Linked DNA regions of Homo sapiens. The gene in region 1 interacts genetically with each later gene. Each region holds a gene or a part of one and is shown on either strand. Other genes may lie near its edges.

Region 1 (4,038 bases):
GGGTGGCTGGTACACTTGCCAGGGACCAGGCAGAGCACCTTGGTGCCCAGTGGGCAACTAACTGCACCCGCCCTCTGTCTGCCAGTTGACTCCCATGATGAGCACCCACCAAGCGGGTTAGGCCGCGGGTTTGATCCTCCTGTGCTTGACTCTCCAGGACAGAAGGGGAGCTCCCCCTCTGAACCATCCCATCCGCAGCCAGCCTCAGCCTCAGAGCTGCTGGTGGCCTTTCCCCTTTGTGATTCCCTTGCATTTTTCTGTGGACCTCAGAAGCCATCCTAGTCACAGGGGAGGCTTATAGGACATCTCTGGGGACCTTCTGCTGAACACCCTCAACCAATGGGGTGTAGTGGTTGATCTGCCTAGGTCCCCAGGGACCTGAAATGTCATGACCCAAGAGAGCATGGATCTGGGGCAGAGTGGCCCTTGCCAAACCCCGAGCCACTTCCCAACCTTGCCGGGACGGTGCAACCTCTTGCCCTCCCAGCCACTCCAGGTGCATCAGGGCTGGAGGAAGGACAGCCCCTCCCCACCACAGGCCCTCTTGACTCCTGGTGGTTGGACCTGTTGTGTGTTTTACTTTCTAAGGCTCTCTGGGGGGACGGAGCTGCCCCTGGTTTTGGGAGCCATCGGCGGGGCTCAGAACAGCCTCGCTGTGGCCGGGTACTGACCTCCCCACCACCACTGGCAGCCATCCCTCCCCTTGCCACCCGTTCTGCCTTCCAGGTGCAGCATGTGGTGTCTCAGAACTGTGACGGGCTCCACCTGAGGAGTGGGCTGCCGCGCACGGCCATCTCCGAGCTCCACGGGAACATGTACATTGAAGTGAGCAGTCCTGCAGGGACCCAGGGTCTCCATGGGCAGGCGGGTCCCACTCACTGTGCCCTCTTGCCTCTAGGTCTGTACCTCCTGCGTTCCCAACAGGGAGTACGTGCGGGTGTTCGATGTGACGGAGCGCACTGCCCTCCACAGACACCAGACAGGCCGGACCTGCCACAAGTGTGGGACCCAGCTGCGGGACACCATTGTGCACTTTGGGGAGAGGGGGACGTTGGGGCAGCCTTTGAACTGGGAAGCGGCGACCGAGGCTGCCAGCAGAGCAGACACCATCCTGTGTCTAGGGTCCAGCCTGAAGGTACGTGCCGATGACACAATGAGTGAACCGAGCCCCTGCCCGCCCGAGGGTGTCCAGCTCTGCGGCCCAGCACTGTACAGACTTGTCCCTTGTGTGTGTGCGGTGTCTGTCTGTCTGCTTCCACAGGTTCTAAAGAAGTACCCACGCCTCTGGTGCATGACCAAGCCCCCTAGCCGGCGGCCGAAGCTTTACATCGTGAACCTGCAGGTAACTCGGGTGCTGAGAGCCACGTCCTTAGATCTGGGTCTTAGAACGCACAGCCAGAGACACCCCACACCCATGCACCAGGGCGGTCTGATAGGGCCCCCGTGGGTGCTCAGGGAGCACCGACTGAGCCCGTAGGGGCCAAGGCTGACAGGCCACCGGGAAGGGTTGGGCTGCTGTTACTCTCACTCGGCTTTCCCTGTCCTCAGTGGACCCCGAAGGATGACTGGGCTGCCCTGAAGCTACATGGGAAGTGTGATGACGTCATGCGGCTCCTCATGGCCGAGCTGGGCTTGGAGATCCCCGCCTATAGCAGGTGAGTGAGCCGCTGCAGCAGCCTGCTTCCCCGCACCTCTGTGTGCTGGGCCTTGTCTGTCTTCTCTCGTGAGCTGAGTGTGGAGGAAGCTCTGAGGTGTTTGCAGTGGTGCCTGAGGCATGACTGAAGCGTGGTGGTCTCCAGAGGGCCTGACCTCGGTGGTTGGCGGAGACCCTGCGTGTGCCACTCCTGCCCTGGCTGATGTGGCACACACAATCCCCGCGGGGAGAGGGATTCTGCCCGCGTGCTCCTGCTCCAGGCCTCCCCGTGGAGCTCTCCGAGATGCCTGGTGGGAAGCATCTGGAGGGGACGAGCACTCGGCAGCTCTGGTCAGACAGAATCTGTGTGCTTGGTTTTGGGAGTTGGCGTACTTTGGGAAAGCTTAAACAAACTGTGCCTTAATACAGAATTTGTGATAATTTAGACTTGGTGTATGTATTGAGTAAAAAGTTTACACTCTCTTTCTCTGTGAATTTTCAGGGTCTTATAGGGGAAATCAATAACTTCTTTTAATCAAAGGGTTCAAGAAATTAAGGATCCCTTCACCTTCTGGGCCTGGCACTTCTTGTATGTTATGTGTGTGGTGTTCTGTGATGTGGGCTATCGTGTACTGTATTTTTTTTTTACATTAACTTAGCTCATTTTCCTTATCAGTGCGTATCTGTATCTTAAGTTATGATCTGTGGTTCTGCATCTCCGTCAGACACATGCTTTCTTCACGGGGTCGTCTGTAGGCCACGCCTCCCTAGTCAGCTGGGAAGGGGGAGAGGGTCTGGTCCACCTGCCCCAGCGGTACAAGTGGAAGGTGGGGCCCAGAGTTGCTAGTGACTCATCCCTGGAGACGGAGGCAGCCCTGGGGCCACTGCTGCCCCACCCTGTGTGTGCACGCCGCTCAGTGGTGGACAAGGACACGGAGTTTTGAGGAGACCGAGCTAGTGTGGGTGCCGACCTTTGAGTCACCACCTAAGAGGTGACCTCTCCCACATCCGTTCTGCAGCTTGGTAACAATGAAGCTGCCGCCAACCAGAGCCCCGCCGCAGTTGACACGGGAGGGAAGGGGATGGGAAGGCAGGGACCGCAGACAGCTTTCCCGAGCTGGGGCAGGTGTGACTGCGAGAGGCTCCCAGGCCCGCCTGATGCCGCTTTCCCTTTTTGGCAGGTGGCAGGATCCCATTTTCTCACTGGCGACTCCCCTGCGTGCTGGTGAAGAAGGCAGCCACAGTCGGAAGTCGCTGTGCAGAAGCAGAGAGGAGGCCCCGCCTGGGGACCGGGGTGCACCGCTTAGCTCGGCCCCCATCCTAGGGGGCTGGTTTGGCAGGGGCTGCACAAAACGCACAAAAAGGAAGAAAGTGACGTAATCACGTGCTCGATGAAGAACAGTTGGCACTTTGCAGATGGCCAGTGTCACGGTGAAGGCTGGGTTGCCCCCACGGGTCTAGGGAGAACGAACTCTTTGGGGATGACATTTTCACCGTGACATTTTTAGCCATTTGTCCTTGAGGAAGCCCCTTGCACTGCTGCGGTTGTACCCTGATACGGCCTGGCCATCGAGGACACCTGCCCATCCGGCCTCTGTGTCAAGAGGTGGCAGCCGCACCTTTCTGTGAGAACGGAACTCGGGTTATTTCAGCCCCGGCCTGCAGAGTGGAAGCGCCCAGCGGCCTTTCCTCGCTCACCAGGCCAGTCTCAGGGCCTCACCGTATTTCTACTACTACTTAATGAAAAAGTGTGAACTTTATAGAATCCTCTCTGTACTGGATGTGCGGCAGAGGGGTGGCTCCGAGCCTCGGCTCTATGCAGACCTTTTTATTTCTATTAAACGTTTCTGCACTGGCTTCCGGTGTCCCCGAGTGGTCGGCGCGGGCTCCCCGGGCTCAGGTCTGCCGCCTGGCAGCTCGGTCGTGGCTTAAAACTCCCTTGGTTGGACAGGGGACAACTGTAGATTATTGTGCCAAAAAATAAGAAAAAAAACTCCCCTGGTTGGGACAGCGCCCCGTGGAGGTTCCCGGAGGTGGCGGCGGTGGGACGGTCCCCACGCCGCACTGCCCCGCCAGCCGAGCGCCAGGTGTGGGCGGTGCGGAGAGGCCAGGTGTGGGTCGGGGGGCGGGGCTCGGAAAGCGCGGCACACGCCATTGGCTGTGCGTTTGGAGGGGGCGGGACTCTGTCAGGGGCTCACGCCATTGGCCGTGCGCGGAGGTGCGGTGGGGCGCGGCCTTCGGGGGGTGGGGCTCGGGGCGGAGGGCGGGAGGCGGGGCGGGGGAGGCGGGGGCGGGGCTCGGGCCGAGCGGCGCACGCCATTGGCCGTGCGCAGCGGGTGAGGCCCGCGTGACGGCCGCTGAGCGTGCGCCTGGCGGGGCGGGCGGCGGCGCTCGGAGTCGCCGGG
Region 2 (3,800 bases), on another chromosome or scaffold:
GCCTGTCCCTGCCTACTGGTCTCCTTCCATACATATGCACTTTTTGCTTGTCCTTCCTCTCAGACTTCTAGGATATTCTTTTTCTGGTACACTGATTAGGAATTGTTTGCATGAGATCCTGCCTCAGTGAAAGTGGCAGAGCTTCATTCTAGGAGATCCAAGGGAAAGCTTTGCTTTGAAACATTTATTCTAGGCTGCAAATCCACAACCCTAGTTGGCCTTCCATTAAAGTCACTAATTCAGCAGTCCCATATTCAATATGCATTACTGTTAATATGTTGCACCATCTCCATTCCCCTGAGAGCTTATATTTTTAATTTTTAAATTTTTATTTTTAGAGACAGTGTCTCACTCTGTCACCTACTTATTATAACCTCAAACTCCTCGGCCCAAGCAGTCCTCTCACCTTAGCCTCCCAAGTTGCCAGGACTACAGGCATGCACCACCATGTCCAGCTAATTTTTAAATTTTTTGTAGAGACAGGGTTTTCTATGTTGGCCAGATTGGTATTGAACTCCTGGCTTCCACGATACCCCGTCTCAGCCTCCCAAAGAACTGGGATTACAGATGTGAGCCACTGCACCTGGCCAGAGAGCTTATATTCTTATAGGAATGGGAAGACTGCCTATGTTATGTGTTGCTACATAATACATTACCCCCAAACTTAGTGACTTAAAACAAACGCTTATTATCTCCATTTCTGTGGGTCAATAATCTAGGCATGACTTAGCTGGGCCAGAGTTTCTCCAAAGTCTGTGATCAAGGTGTCAGTTGGGCTGGGCCTGCAGTCATCTCAAGGCTCCACTAGAGGAGCATTCACTGGCAGACTTATTCAAATGGCTGTTGGCTGATCCTCGATGGCTATTGGCCCCTCTATTGGTTTCTTGCCCTTGGGCCCCTCCATAGTACTGCTTGCTATTCACAACATGGCAGCTTGCTTTGCCCAGAGCAGGGACTCTGAGGGAGGCAGGGAAATAAAGAGCAAGAGAGAGGTCACAGTCTTATTGTAATCTAATTCTGGAAATGACAGCCCATTACTTTTGGCATATTATTTTGGTTAGAAGCAAGACAACAGTAGATCTAGCCCACACACGAGGGGAGGAGGATCACACAAGGAGGTGAATACCAGGAGGTGGGGTCATTGGGAGCCATCTGAGAGGCTGCCCACCACACTGCCTCAAGTAACTAGGGAGAGGTAAAAGTTTATATGCCAGATGACCAAATATTAAAATGTGTGTTACAAATAGTTCACGATGGGCTCAGCTGTCAGACTTTACAAAGGAGCTATGGGACCTTATAAGGACAGTTGGAACTGGCTAGGTATCACATAGTGGTCTTCAAACATTTTTGCTTGCCATAACCTCTAAAATAATTGGGAAAAAGTTGAATGTACTTCCATATCTTAAAGCTGATAATTTAAAATATTATACATTTAATAGCAGCACGGGATTTAGTTTTTGTTAAATTGTATATGTGCTCCAAATAGATTTACCATCAAAACCTGTTTTGAATTTAATATTGGGAGAATTCGCTAGTTTAATTTTTGGAAAATAAAGTATAATTGGCAAAGCTAATCCTCACTGTTGAATCTATCCGTCAAATCAGATATAATTTCTATCAGAAAGTCTATATGACTTGTCAACATAATACCCATAAAGTGAATCAAAAATTATTATTCATTGAACACATCATCTCTTATCAAATTCTTGTGACCTTCCTTCTGGTTGTATAATAGCCTAAAAAACAAAAAAAGGACAAAAGCAAGTTTCCAGAAAGCTGTTCTGACTTGCCTACTTCTGAAAAGTAGTCCTGTATGGTGGGTTCTGAAAATGAGGAACCAGGACTTGCAGAGTAGGCAGTTGCTGGAGGAAGAATGTGAGCTGCATGGGAAAAGACAGGAGGATTTACAAAGAGTGGGTGTTTAATTGGGGATGGAATTAGGTAGTTATTCTGATTTTTAGATTTTTCATATCTTTTATTTGGTCCAATGAAGCAGAAAATTTAAATGAAGTTATTACCTTTGCCTGATTTTTGACACACCTCAAACTATAACTTGAGGTTGCTAACTATGAAACACTGGCATTTAATGATTTAAAGTAAAGAATTCTGTAATTTGTAGACTTCTGAGAAGTTCCAGAAAATAAATCAGATGGTATGTAACAGCGACCGTGTGCTCAAAAGAAGTGCTGAAGGAAGCAACCCTCCTAAACCACTGAAAAAACTACGCTTTGATATTGAAGGATCAGATGAAGCAGATGGAAGGTAGGAACCAGTTTTGAATGTTTTCCAGTAGCCGAGATGGTCATCTGGGGAATCCAGAGTCTCAGCACTGCTCCTGGCTTATACCAATTTCTTTCATGCCAAGTTTATTTGGAAGTTGTGAGAATGGCTCAAAATAATAGATATGAGTGTAGTGCAAAGTTAAAAACATCTTACAAATTGCATACCAACATTCAGTGAAGATATCTAATAAACCCTGATCTTTTTTACAAAGCTATTGATAAAATTTTGTTATTCTTAACATTAAATTTAAAAATGTTTACTCTTGAAAAATATTAACCACTGTATTTTGTGAGAACCACTGAAAAAATACATAGCATCATAAATTTGTGACATTTATGTTTTAGATGGTTAGTTTTTAAATTTTAAAATTAAAAGCTACTCACTAAAATAATAGCATAAAGTAAGTCATCGAAAGCATCATAGTTACTGGAAATTTGAGTTTTCCATTTATAAATACACATGAAATGTTTTGCATTTTTTTAATCTGCAGTAAACATCTCCCAGGAGAGTCCAAATTTCAGCAGAAACTGGCAGAAATGAGTAAGTACTTTTTTCACCTTGTGTAAATGAAATAAACAATTGTTTACACTGCAAGAAGTCTTTTCGTTATATAAAAGAATGTATAATTTCTTCAGTTGGCAGGTTTGTTTATGCATTTAAAATATAATTCAATCAAGGTTATTTATCTACAAACATTTGTGGATTAAATGTATGATGTAAAATGAAGGTCATTTTTACCCTTTCTATGATCTTTCATGCAGGAAGACTAAGAAGTGAAACATTGCTTGACCACATTCAACACAAATGGCTACAGTTAGAAAATACTTTAGCAGAACTACAAAGAGGAGCTATTTGGGAGTGTTAGATATAGGGAAAAGTTTTATAAACCTAGCATATGTAAACATCATCACCCTTATTTAAGGAATAACCTTTGATTCTACCATTTTTAAACTTTCCTTATTTGCAAATCTTAAAACAATTTCAAACAAAAGTTTCCATTACTGGAAATCAGAATTTTAATAAAGAACACTTATGTCATTTTCCAAGTTATACAGAGTGATATCATGTTAGGGTAAGTGGAATTCTATTCAAAACTACTCTGAGACTAGACAAAAAAAATAATCCAAGGATAGTAGATGGAAAGCACATTAGGAAAGAGATAAATGTTCACTAACTACTATTGGGTTGTCTTAGGTAGTTATGGTAGTGAGTGTAACATTTCCCAGTATCTGCTGCCAGATCCATTGATAGGAAAAGGAACTGGGATTTTGAAAGAAGACAAATATTCAGGAGATAGGTGTTAAAACAATCATTCCTAGGTCACAGGACACACTAATGAGAACAATACCAATTAAAATGAGAGGCTTTCTTTTAATACATCTTTGTAGATACTAACTTTGAAAATAAGATATTTAAAAGGATGCTTTTTTTCTATGTATTTTTTTAAAGTGTAATTAAAACTAAATAACTAAAACAAAATTTTCTAGTTATAAATGAATCTCTTTTTGGATTTTATG

What was found. A genetic interaction does not mean that the proteins touch.
Region 2: changes in SIRT7 (region 1) and RB1 together harm fitness more than expected from each alone (negative genetic interaction), as found in Homo sapiens cells (one large-scale study listed by BioGRID).

The regions. Positions count from the first base shown.
Region 1 is NC_000017.11:81,911,391-81,915,428, reverse strand, and holds the end of SIRT7 (NAD-dependent protein deacetylase sirtuin-7), read left to right. Parts: intron 1-726; coding exon 727-825; intron 826-898; coding exon 899-1,135; intron 1,136-1,261; coding exon 1,262-1,342; intron 1,343-1,548; coding exon 1,549-1,655; intron 1,656-2,814; coding exon 2,815-3,013; 3' UTR 3,014-3,490; downstream 3,491-4,038. UniProt on the Homo sapiens protein: NAD-dependent protein-lysine deacylase that can act both as a deacetylase or deacylase (desuccinylase, depropionylase, deglutarylase and dedecanoylase), depending on the context. Specifically mediates deacetylation of histone H3 at 'Lys-18' (H3K18Ac).
Region 2 is NC_000013.11:48,474,582-48,478,381, forward strand, and holds part of RB1 (retinoblastoma-associated protein), read left to right. Parts: intron 1-1,868; exon of another isoform or gene 1,869-1,941; intron 1,942-2,119; coding exon 2,120-2,262; intron 2,263-2,773; coding exon 2,774-2,823; intron 2,824-3,800. UniProt on the Homo sapiens protein: Tumor suppressor that is a key regulator of the G1/S transition of the cell cycle. The hypophosphorylated form binds transcription regulators of the E2F family, preventing transcription of E2F-responsive genes.